2 separate regions of the Homo sapiens genome follow, and region 1 is linked to region 2. The links come from fine-mapping of genetic effects on gene expression. A gene starts in region 2. The other region holds a variant in brackets. All regions are shown on one strand. Distances are from middle to middle. Region 1 has its middle 19 kb from the start of OR4X1. Region 2 holds the start of SLC39A13 (solute carrier family 39 member 13).

Region 1 (5,373 bases), 870 kb after region 2:
CACTTACAAGTGAGAACCTATGATATTTGATTTTTCACTTCTGAGTTACTTCACTTAGAATAATGGTCTCCAACTCCATCCAGGCTGTTTCAAATGCCATTATTTAATCCTCTTTATGGGTGGGTAGTATTCCATGATGTATATATGACATATTTTCTTTATCCACTCATTGATTGATGGGCATTTGGGCTTGATCCATATTTTTGCAATTGTGAATTGTGATGCTATAAATATGCATGTGCAAGTGTCTTTCATTTAATAACTTTCTCTAGGTAAATACCCAGTAGTGGGATTGCTGGGTCAATAGTAGTTCTACTTTTAGTTCTTTAGGGAGTCTCCATACTGTTTTATGTAGCGGTTGTACTAGTTTACATTATCACCAGCAGTGTAAAATTGTTCCCTTTTCACCACATCCACACCAACATCTATTATTTTAAATTTTTTGATTAAGGGCATTCTTGCAGGAGTAAAGTGGTATTGCATTATCATTTTGATTTGCATTTCCCTGATAATTAATGATATTGAGCATATTTTCATGTTTATTGGCCATTTGCATATCTTCATTTGAGAATTATCCATTCATGTCCTTAGCCCACTTATTGATTGGATTATTTGCTTTTTCTTGCTGATTTGAGTGTCTCGCAGATTCTGGATATTAGCCCTTTGTCAGATGCAAAGTTTACAAATATTTTTTCCCATTCTATGGGTTGTCTGTTTACTCTGTGGATTATTTCTTCTGCTGTGCAGAAGCTTTTTAGTTGAATTAAGTCCCATCTACTTATTTTTGTTTTTGTTGCATTTGCTTTTGGGTTCTTGGTCGTGAACTCTTTGCCTAAGCCTACATCTAGAAGAGTTTTACTGATGTTATCTTCTAGAATTTTTTATGGTTTTAGGCCTTAGATTTAAGTCTCTGATCCATCTTGAGTTGATTTTTGTGTAAGGTCACAGATGAGGATCCAGTTATATTCTTCTACATGTGGCTTGCCAGTTATCTCAGCACCATTTGTTGAATAGGGTGTCCTTTCCCCACTTTATGTTTTTGTTTGCTTTGGTGAAGATCAGTTGGTGGCAAGTATTTGGCTTTATTTCTTGGTTCTCTATTCTGTTCCATTGGTCTACATGACTATTTTTATACCAGCACCATGCTGCTTTGGTAACTATAGCCTTGTAGTATAGTTTGAAATTAGGTAATGTGATGCCTCCAGATTTGTCCCTTTTGCTTTGTCTTGCTTTGACTATGTGGGGTCTTTTCAGTTCCATATGAATTTTAGAATTTTTTTTGTAGTTCTGTGAAAAATGATAATAAATACTTTGATAGGAATTGCATTGAATCTGTAGATCGGTTTTGGCCGTATGGTCATTTTCACTATATTCATTCTACCCATCCGTAAGGAAGGGATGTGTTCCCATTTGTATCATTGATTTCTTTCAGCCGTGTCTTGTAGTTTTCCTTGTAGAGGTCTTTCATGTCCTTGGTAAGGTATATTCCTAAGTATTTTATATTATTTTATTTTTTGCAGCTGTTGTTAAAAAAGATTGAGTTCTTCATTTGTTTCTCAGCTTTGTCATTGTAGGTGTATAGCAGTGCTACTGATTTATGTACATTGATTTTGTATGCTGAAACTTTACTGAACTCATTTGTCAAATCTAGGAGTGTTTGGTTGAATCTTCAGGGTTTTTTAAGTATACAATCATATCATTGGTGAACAGCAACAGTTTGACAACCTCTTTACTGATTTGGATGCCTTTCATTTCTTTCTCTAGTCTGATTGCTGTGGCTAGGAGTTCCAGTACTATGTTGAATAAAAGTGGTGTAAGTGGGCATCCTTGCTTTGTTCCAGTTCTCAGGGGAATACTTTCAACTTTTCCCCATTCAGTATAATGTGGGCTGTGGGTTAGTCATAGATGGCTTTTATTACCCTGAGGTATGTCCCTTCTATGCTGATTTTGCTGAGGGTTTTAATCATAAAGGGATGCTGGATTTTGTCAAATGCTTTTTTCTCCATCTATTGAGATGATCATACGATTTCTGTGTTTAATTTTGTTTATGTGATGTATCACATTTACTGACTTGTGCATGTTAAATCATTCGTGCATACCAGTTATGAAACTCACTTGATCATGGTGTATTATCTTTTTGATATGTTGTTGGATTTGGTTAGCTAGTATTTTGTTGAGGATTTTTGCATTTATGTTAATCAGGGATATTGGTCTTTATTTTTTTTTCCATTATGTCCTTTCCTAATTTTGGAATTAGGTTGATATTGGCTTCATAGAATGATTTAGGGAGATTTCCCTCTCTCTGTCTTTTGGAATAGTATTAAAGTTGGTACCAATTGTTCTTTAAATGTCTGATAGAATTCATCTGTGAATTCATCTGGTCTTGGACTTTTTTTGTTGGCTTTTGTTTTACTACTGTTAATATTGCT[G/A]CTTGTTATTGATGTGTTCAGAGTTTTCTATTTCCTTCTGATTTAATTTGGGAGGGTTATATATTTCCTTGAATTAATCCATCTCCTCTAGGTTTTCTAGTTTGTGTGAGTAAAGGTGTTCATAGTAGCCTTGAATGATCTTTAGTATTTCTGTGGTATCAGTTGTAATATCTCCTGTTTTATTTCTAATTGAGCTTATTTGGATTTTTTCCTCTTCTTTTCTTGGTTATTCCCACTAATGGTCTATCAGTTTTGTTTATCTTTTCAAAAAATAAGCTTATTTCATTTATCTTTTGAATTATTATTTTTTGGTTTCAATTTCATTTAGTTGTGCTCTGATCTTTGTTATATCTTTTCTTCTGCTGGGTTTTGGTTTGGTTTGTTCTTTTTTCTCTAGTTTCTTGAGGTGTGACTGTAGATCCTTGAGGTATGTCTATTTGTGCTCTTTCAGACTTTTTGATATAGGCATTTAATGCTATGAACTTTCCTCTTAGCACTGCTTTTGCTGTATCCCAGAGGTTTTGGTAAGTTGTGTCACTATTATCATTCAGCTCAAAGAATTTTAAAATTTTGATCTTGATTTCATTGTTGACCCAATGATCATTCAAGAGCAGATATTTTAATTTCCATGTATTTGTATAGCTTTTGATGTTTCTTTTGGAGTAAATTTCCAGTTTTATTTCACTGTGGTCTTGGATACTTGATATAATTTTGATTTTCTTAAATTGATAGAGACTTGTTTTAGTGGCCTATCATATGGTCTATATTGGAGAATGTTCCATGTGCTGATGCAAAGAATGTATATTCTGCAGTTGTTGGGCAGAATGTGCTGTAAATATCTGTTAAGTCCATTTGTTTCAAGCCATAGTTTAAGTCCGTTGTTTCTTTGTTGACTTTATGTCTTGGTAACCTTTCTAGTGCTGTCAGTGGAGTATTGAAGTCCTTTGCTATTATTGTGTTGCCATCTATCTCACTTCTTAGGCCAAGTAGTAATTGTTTTATAAATTTGAGAGCTCCAGTGTTAGGTGCATATATATTTAGAATTTTCCTATTGGACTATACCTTTTATCATTATATAATAATGATTTTTTTGTGTTTTTAAACTGTTATTGCTTTAAACTCTATTTTGCCTGATTTAAGCATAGCTACTCCACTTGCTTTTGGTTTCCACTTGTGTTGAACTTGTTTTTGGTTTCCACTTGGGTTGAACCCCCTCCTGTTCATCTTAAGTTTATGTGAATTCTTATAGGTTAGGCGAGTCTCTTGAAGACAGCAAATACTTGGTTGCTGGATTTTTATCCATTCTGTCATTCTGTATATTTTAAGTGGAGCATTTAGGCCATGTACATTCAATGTTACTATTGAGATGTGAGGTACTGTTCTGTTCATCATTTTAGTTGTTGTTGCCTTAATACTTTTTTTCTTTCCATTGTGCTATTGTTTTGTAGACTCTGAGAGTTGTAATTTAAGGGGTCTCTATTTTGGTGTATTTCAAGGTTTTGTTTCAAGATTTATAACTCCTTTTAGCATTTATTTTATTTTATTTTATTTTTATTTTACTTTAGGTTTCAAAATACATGTGTAGAACATGCAAGTTTGTTATATAGTTACACTTGTGCCATGGTGGTTTGCTGTACCTATCAACTTGTCATCTAGGTCTTAAGCCTCACCTGCATTAGGTGTTTGTTCTAATGCTTTCCCTCCCCTTCCCCCCAACCCCTGATAGGCCACAGTGTGTGTCATTCCCCTCCCAGAGTCCATGTGCTCTCATTGTTCAACTCCCATTTATGAATGAGAATCTGTGGTGTTTGGTTTTCTGTTCCTGTATTAGTTTGCTGAGGATGATGGCTTCCAGCTTCATCCATGTCCCTGCAAAGGACATAAACTTCTTTTTTATGGCTGCATAGTATTTGCTGGGGTATAGGTACCACATTTTCTTTATACAGTCTATAACTGATAGGCATTTGGGTTGGTTCCATGTCTTTGCTATTCTAAATAGTGCTGCAATAAATATGTGTGCATGTGTCTTTACAGTAGAATGATTTATATTCCTTTGGGTATATACCCAGGAATTGGATTGCTGGGTCAACTGGTATTTCTGGTTCTAGATCCTTGAGAAATCACCACACTGTCTTCCACAATGGTTGAACTAATTTACATTCTCACCAACAGTGTAAAAGTGTTCCTATTTCTCCGCAGCCTCACCAGCATCTATTGGTTCTTGCCTTTTTAATAATTGCCATTCTGACTGGTGTGAAATGGTATCTCATTGTGGTTTTGATTTGCATTTCTCTAATGATCAGAGATGTTGAGCTATTTTTCATGTTTGTTGGCCACATAAATGTCTTCTTTTGAGAGGCATCTATTCATATCCTTTGCCCACTTTTTGAGGGGCTTGTTTATTTTTTTCTTGTAAATTTGTTTAATTTCCTCATATATTCTGGATATTAGCCCTTTGTCAGATGGGTAAATTGCAAAATTTTTCTCCCATTCTGTAGGTTGTCTGTTCACTCTGATGCTAGTTTTTTTCCCCTTTGGAGGAGTTCTTTAGTTTAATTGATCCATTTTGTCAATTTTTGCTTTTGTTGCAAATGCTTTTGGTGTTTTAGTCATGAAGTTTTTGCCCATGCGTATGTCCTGAATGGTATTGCCTAGGTTTTCTTCTAGGGTTTTTATGATTTGGGGTTTTACATTTAAGTCTTTAATCCATCTTTAGTTAATTTTTGTATAAGGTGTAAGGAAGGGGTCCAGTTTCAGTTTTCTTCATATGGCTAGCCAGTTTTCCCAGCACCATTTATTAAATAGAGAATCTTTTCCAAATTGCTTGTTTTTGCCATGTTTGTTGAGGATCGCATGTAGTGTTATTTCTGAGGTCTCTGTTCTGTTTCATTGCTCTATGTGTCTGTTTTGGTACCAGTATCATGCTGTTTTTGTTACTGTAGCC
Region 2 (5,373 bases):
AGTGAACCGAGATCATGCCACTATACTCCAGTCTGGGTGACAGAGTGAGACCCTGTCTCAAAAAAAAAAAAAAAAAAAAGAGAAAGAGAAAGAGATTTTATATAGTGAGATTTTCATATATCTGAGATGAGATTTGATATATGTATACAATTTTACACATTGCATACATGTGATCATATACACCTTTTATTTATTTATTTTGAGATGGAGTTTCGCTCTTGTTGCCCAGGCTGGAGTGCAATGGCGCGATCTCGGCTCACTGCAACCTCTACCTCCCAGGTTCAAGCGATTCTCCTGCCTCAGCCTCCCGAGTAGCTGGGATTACAGGCATGCGCCACCACACCTGGCTGATCTTGTATTTTTAGTAGAGGGGGTTTCTCCATGTTGGTCAGGCTGGTCTTGAACTCCCGACCGCAGGTGATCTGCCCACCTTGGCCTCCCAAAGTGCTGGGATTACAGGCATAAGCCACCATGCCCAGCCATATATGGCCATACACATCTTTTAATGTGTTGTTTTCCTTTAACATTTTTTCCTTCCCTATTCACATTAGTTCCTCCCACCATAGAATCCATAATATCACTTTAATGTGTTATCTATGTTTTTTATGTATTCATTATACATAGACTTATATATACTGATACCTTTAATCACATACACATATACAAGGTTTCTTTTTGTCATTATTTTAAAATAGTCTCTTAAAAAATAAAAATAGTGGATCATATTAAATAAATATTTCTGCATCTCACTTTTCTCACACACCTGGAAACCCCTGCAATTTTATTAATTTGTAATTTTTTTTATTTTTTTATTTTTGAGACAGGGTCTCGCTCTGTTACCCAGACTGGAGTGCAGTGGCACGATCAGGGCTCACTGCAGCCTTGACCTCCCGGGTTCAAGCAATCCTTCCACCTCAGCCTCCTGAGTAGCTGGGGCTACAGGTGCGCACCATTACACCTGACTAATTTTAAATTTTTTTGTAGAGACCAGTTCTCAGTTTGTTACCCAGGCTGGTCTGGAACTCCTGGGCTCAAAAGATCTTCCTTCCTAGGCCTCCCAAAGTGCTGGGATTACAGATGTGAGCCACCGGGCCTTAGGTATCCGATGGGAATTCCAGGCCAGGTGGGAGGAAAGGGTAGTGCATTGGCACCAAGTAACGTTTCTGGCTGGGTCTTGCCCATCCCCTTGTTGGGTGGCCAGGAGCGCTCAGCCTCCAGAGGCAGGAATGCTGACTGTGTTATTGTGAAATCATTTGCATATTGTGAAGTGCTTTGCATAAGATGGAGCGCTTTTGCATACAGGGAGGGGGGCATTTTAGAAGTCCTAGGGCAGGATCCCTGAGTAGCTTTTCTTTGCCAAGAAACTAACCCAGGGATTCCATTTTGGAACTCAGGGAGGGAACAGAACGTCCTGGCAGTTGTATGGGCCCGGTGGGGTGAGATGGACAGAAAGCTTCAGAAGACAAGCTGGGCCACCAGGGAGAAGTTGGCGGTCTAAGGAAGGCCAACAGTGCAACATGAAGTGGGACAGGCACCAGAGGCAGCCCTGAGAGCTGAGTGTGCTCTCAAGAGCCCCAGCAGAGGGGAAAGTGACAGAGTAAATGGTTGGAGCTGCCATGGGAGGCTGATGAGGGTCAGAGACTTAAGAGACCTGTACTCAGTCGCTATCTCTGCCCAAGTGAGTACCCACATGCCCCTTCCTGAATCTTCTCCTGTACTGGCTGATTTCCAGAGAAGAATACAAACTCGAAACGCCAAGCCAGACTCCCACTGCTGTTCAGGACCTAGACGTGAGAAGTGGTATCACATACTCTGGCTTCAGGACACCCAGGTTTGAATCCTGGCTCTGCCATCTGTGCCACTGTGTGACCCTGGGCTAACAGTACCCACCACAATGGGATAATATGAGGATTCAGTGAGATAGTGCGAGTAAAGTGAATAGCACATAGTAGGTGGTCAGTAAATTGCGGTTATAAGAACTGCTATCCAGTGTTTGCTGCCTTAGTCTAACCAAAGAGGTCAGGTCTAGCTTCCTCCAGGTGAGGGAAGCACAGAGCCCTCGCCTCCCAGGTTTGGAGTTCCCATCAGCAGGGTCCAGCCACCATGCATTGGACCCCAAAGGGTTACAAGCCCTGGAGACAGTGGCCTGAGGTTCCCAGTGAAAAACCAAAGCATAAAAATAATTCGATGAGTAAGAATAAAATTCCCTCTTCTGAGGTTCCCGGGGCCAGGCCCCTCCCTGCGGCAGGCACTTCCCCTTTCCCTTGCTCATGGAGGAGCCAGGCCGGGCTGACTCAGAGCAGGAGCGCACAGTAGTCCTCCCAGCCCGACCTGGGCGGCGTGGTCTGGCGGCCGGGCGCGCCCCCGTGCGGCCACGGGCAGACTGCGGCCCTGGACGGGAAGCGGCGGCCAGATCCGCAAGCCCCGCAGCCTGGTCGATCGCGGTCCCCGCAGAGCCGCCGCTTCCGTCCCTGCCCAGCCTGGCTGAGCGCGGTGCGTGTGGCTCTCTCACTTCCGACCGACCCTCCCCTCCGGCCCGCAGCCCTGCCCAAACGGAAGTGCGCCCTCTACCCGGGTCCCCCACCGCCGCGAGGCGGAAGCGCCCTCCCGCCGCCACTCCCCCCGACCCCGCGGCACGCGGCGCCTCGGGTTCCGGACAGGCCCCTTGTGACGTGGCCGCGCGCCGGGGGCGGCCCCGGGCCGGGGGCCGGGCGGCCGGGCGGCCGGGCGGGGCAGAGCCTGGGCGGGGCGCGGCACCGCAGCTGGATGGCTGGGGCCGCCCGGATCGCCGCCGCCGCCGCCGCACGGTGAGTGCCAGCAGGACCCTCGGGGCCCGCGCCCCGGGCGTGATGGACCCGGCCGATCCCTCGCCCCGTCCGACTGGTCCTCATCAGACCTGGGCCGGCTCCCAGGACCCGGGAGTCAGGCTCGCCCGCTTCGGCCTCCTCTCCCCCATCGCTCCGCGCCCCACGCCCCATCCCTCCCTCGCTGTCCTCTCCGCGTCCCACCCGCCTCTCTCTAGCTCTCTCACTCTCTACTTTCCTCTCCCCTTGGACTCTCCGTGTATTCCCTCCCGCTAGCCTGTGGTCCCCTCACCTCTGCGTGACCGCCTCGTCCTGGCCCAGTCTTGCCTGTGGTCCCCAGTGGAGCCCCGCTGGCTTCATCAGTGCCCCTGATTAGTTAAGGCCTGGAGGTCCTAGACATGGGCATCTCTGCCACCACCCAGAGGCAGCTGCTTTCTTCCCCTCCCATCTCCATCAGAAGGTGAGGAAACTGAGGCAGGGACATCACCAGCTCAAGGTCACAGCCAGCCTGAGGCAGAGCAGACCACATTTAAACCTCATGCCCGAGTTTCCAGATGGAACTTCTCGCTTGGTTGACTCACGTCCACATCCTGTGATCGGCCGGCTGGGCACATTCCTGCTGCAGGGAGCCCCAGGCCTTCCCTGGCACAGGCAGGGCCTCTGCGCCTCCTCATGCCGGGTACATCCACCTGCACTTTCAGGCTTATCTCGTCCTCACAGCTGAGGCAGGTGATATTGATCCCTGTCCTGCAGATGAGGGCACTGAGGCTCAGAGGGGGGGCTTCAGAGATTTGCCCAGAGTTAGACAGCTCAAAGTGCAGCATAGAATTCACCGTGGGGGCTCTAAAGCCTGCGCTATACAAGAGAGAGGCATCCCCTGGCTAAAGGCTCCTTCCTCATCAGCCCCATCTCCTGTTGCCCTCAGTGCCCTGGGGACATTGGTCTCATGTCCTAGGAAGAAGCGTGGATGGTCTTGCCCTGGCTCATCTGCTCAGTTTCCCCACGTATGTCTCTCTGAATCCACCCCATCCCCTTAGAAGGGGTGCCTCAGTCTCTGGGGTGTCGCGGGCGGCAGGGCCTCCCCTGGCAGCCAGAGACACCCAGCTGGGCCGGGCCGTGCCGCCGGTGGCTGAGGAGAGCCAGCCAGCGCCTCACCCTGTCATTAGGGAAAGTTTAGCCTCAGGCGGAGGTGCTGACACAGTCTGGAGCTGCTCAGAAGGAAAAAATACGCAGTGCTCAGGAGTAGGGTGTGGAGACACAGGGCCCCATTGCTGTGCACCCAGCATTTGGATGCTCAGACGCTCTGGCAAGGACAGCAGGAGGGTGGATGCCAGGGTCCCTTGCGGGGAGGAGGGAGGCGCCACGTTTCCTAAGCAGGTGTGCGGCCAAGGCTGTAGCTCATATAGGTGGCCTTTTGTGTTTTTCAGTACGTGGCATGCCTGGATGTCCCTGCCCTGGCTGTGGCATGGCGGGCCCAAGGCTCCTCTTCCTCACTGCCCTTGCCCTGGAGCTCTTGGAAAGGGCTGGGGGTTCCCAGCCGGCCCTCCGGAGCCGGGGGACTGCGACGGCCTGTCGCCTGGACAACAAGGAAAGCGAGTCCTGGGGGGCTCTGCTGAGCGGAGAGCGGCTGGACACCTGGATCTGCTCCCTCCTGGGTTCCCTCATGGTGGGGCTCAGTGGGGTCTTCCCGTTGCTTGTCATTCCCCTAGAGATGGGGACCATGCTGCGCTCAGAAGGTAGGTGACTCTCCGGTGGCGCCCAGGGCTGGCCAGGGTGTGGGAAGCATGCTGCTGCTCTTCTTAGGAGACCCCAGGTCACAGAGTGTCTGAGATGGAGGGAGAGGATAGAATAGAACTTCTCCCCTTGGTCCTGTAGGAGCTATCTAGCCAGGGGCGGCTGGCTCTGGCTTCCCCAGGAAGCTATGAGCACCTGGTAGCAGGGCCTGCCCCTGGGGAGGGGGTCTAGGAGATGGGGATGTGGGCACGGGTGGGAGCTTTGTCCTGACTACCCTTTTGTACCATGAGCATGTACTGCCCGTTCACAAATAACATGTTGTAACAAAACACGCAGGAGAGCTCTAGGGAGCTGCTAAGAATGCACGTGCCTATCCCCCACCTAAGAGGGGTGGACCAAGGCCCTGGGAATCTGTTAGAAACGAGCATCCCAGGGGCTGGTGCTGCCAGCTGGATGCTCAGGAACCATTCACTTACCAGATGGTTACCCAGCAGCTCTGTGCCAGGCACTGGGCTGAGGGCGGTGCCACAGCTGTGAATAGAGCCCTGCTTGGGCCATGGTCAGGCCTGTGCTCAACCCTCAGAGCAGCCCTGCGGGGTCAGTGCAGGGAGCACCTGGATTATTAGTTCCATTTTACAAGTGGGGATGCACAGGCACAGAGAGGTTCTTTGACCAGTCCAAGGTCACCCAGCCAGGAAATAGCAGTTTCCCCTGGGATCCCACCCCAAACCCAGCTGCCTCTGTCCTCTAGGCCTCAGTTTCTCTATCAAGCCAAAGGGTTGGACATGGCTTTCAGGCAGGCGACTTCCAACCCTGGATGCTGCAAGTCCCCAAA

The links. PIP is the estimated chance that this variant, and not a neighbour inherited with it, causes the effect. A credible set is the group of variants that fine-mapping cannot tell apart.
Region 1: its variant is the best candidate, but not a certain one, in a credible set for the expression of SLC39A13 in whole blood (TOPMed, PIP 0.79).

Annotation. Positions count from the first base shown.
Region 1 is chr11:48,279,750-48,285,122 of GRCh38, forward strand. No RefSeq gene overlaps it. Among named protein-coding and RNA genes, the nearest start is that of OR4X1, 19 kb to the left of the region's middle. The variant G/A (reference allele first, on the strand shown) is at 2,430.
Region 2 is chr11:47,405,856-47,411,228 of GRCh38, forward strand. It overlaps SLC39A13 (solute carrier family 39 member 13), which reads left to right and starts at 2,735. Exons shown (of 10, transcript NM_001128225.3): 1 at 2,735-2,807; 2 at 4,232-4,540. The coding sequence starts at 4,240. It overlaps SLC39A13-AS1 (SLC39A13 antisense RNA 1), which reads right to left and starts at 3,427. Exons shown (of 4, transcript NR_182308.1): 1 at 3,097-3,427. RefSeq lists enhancers at 2,017-2,839, 3,128-3,994, 3,995-4,859 and a silencer at 2,248-3,037.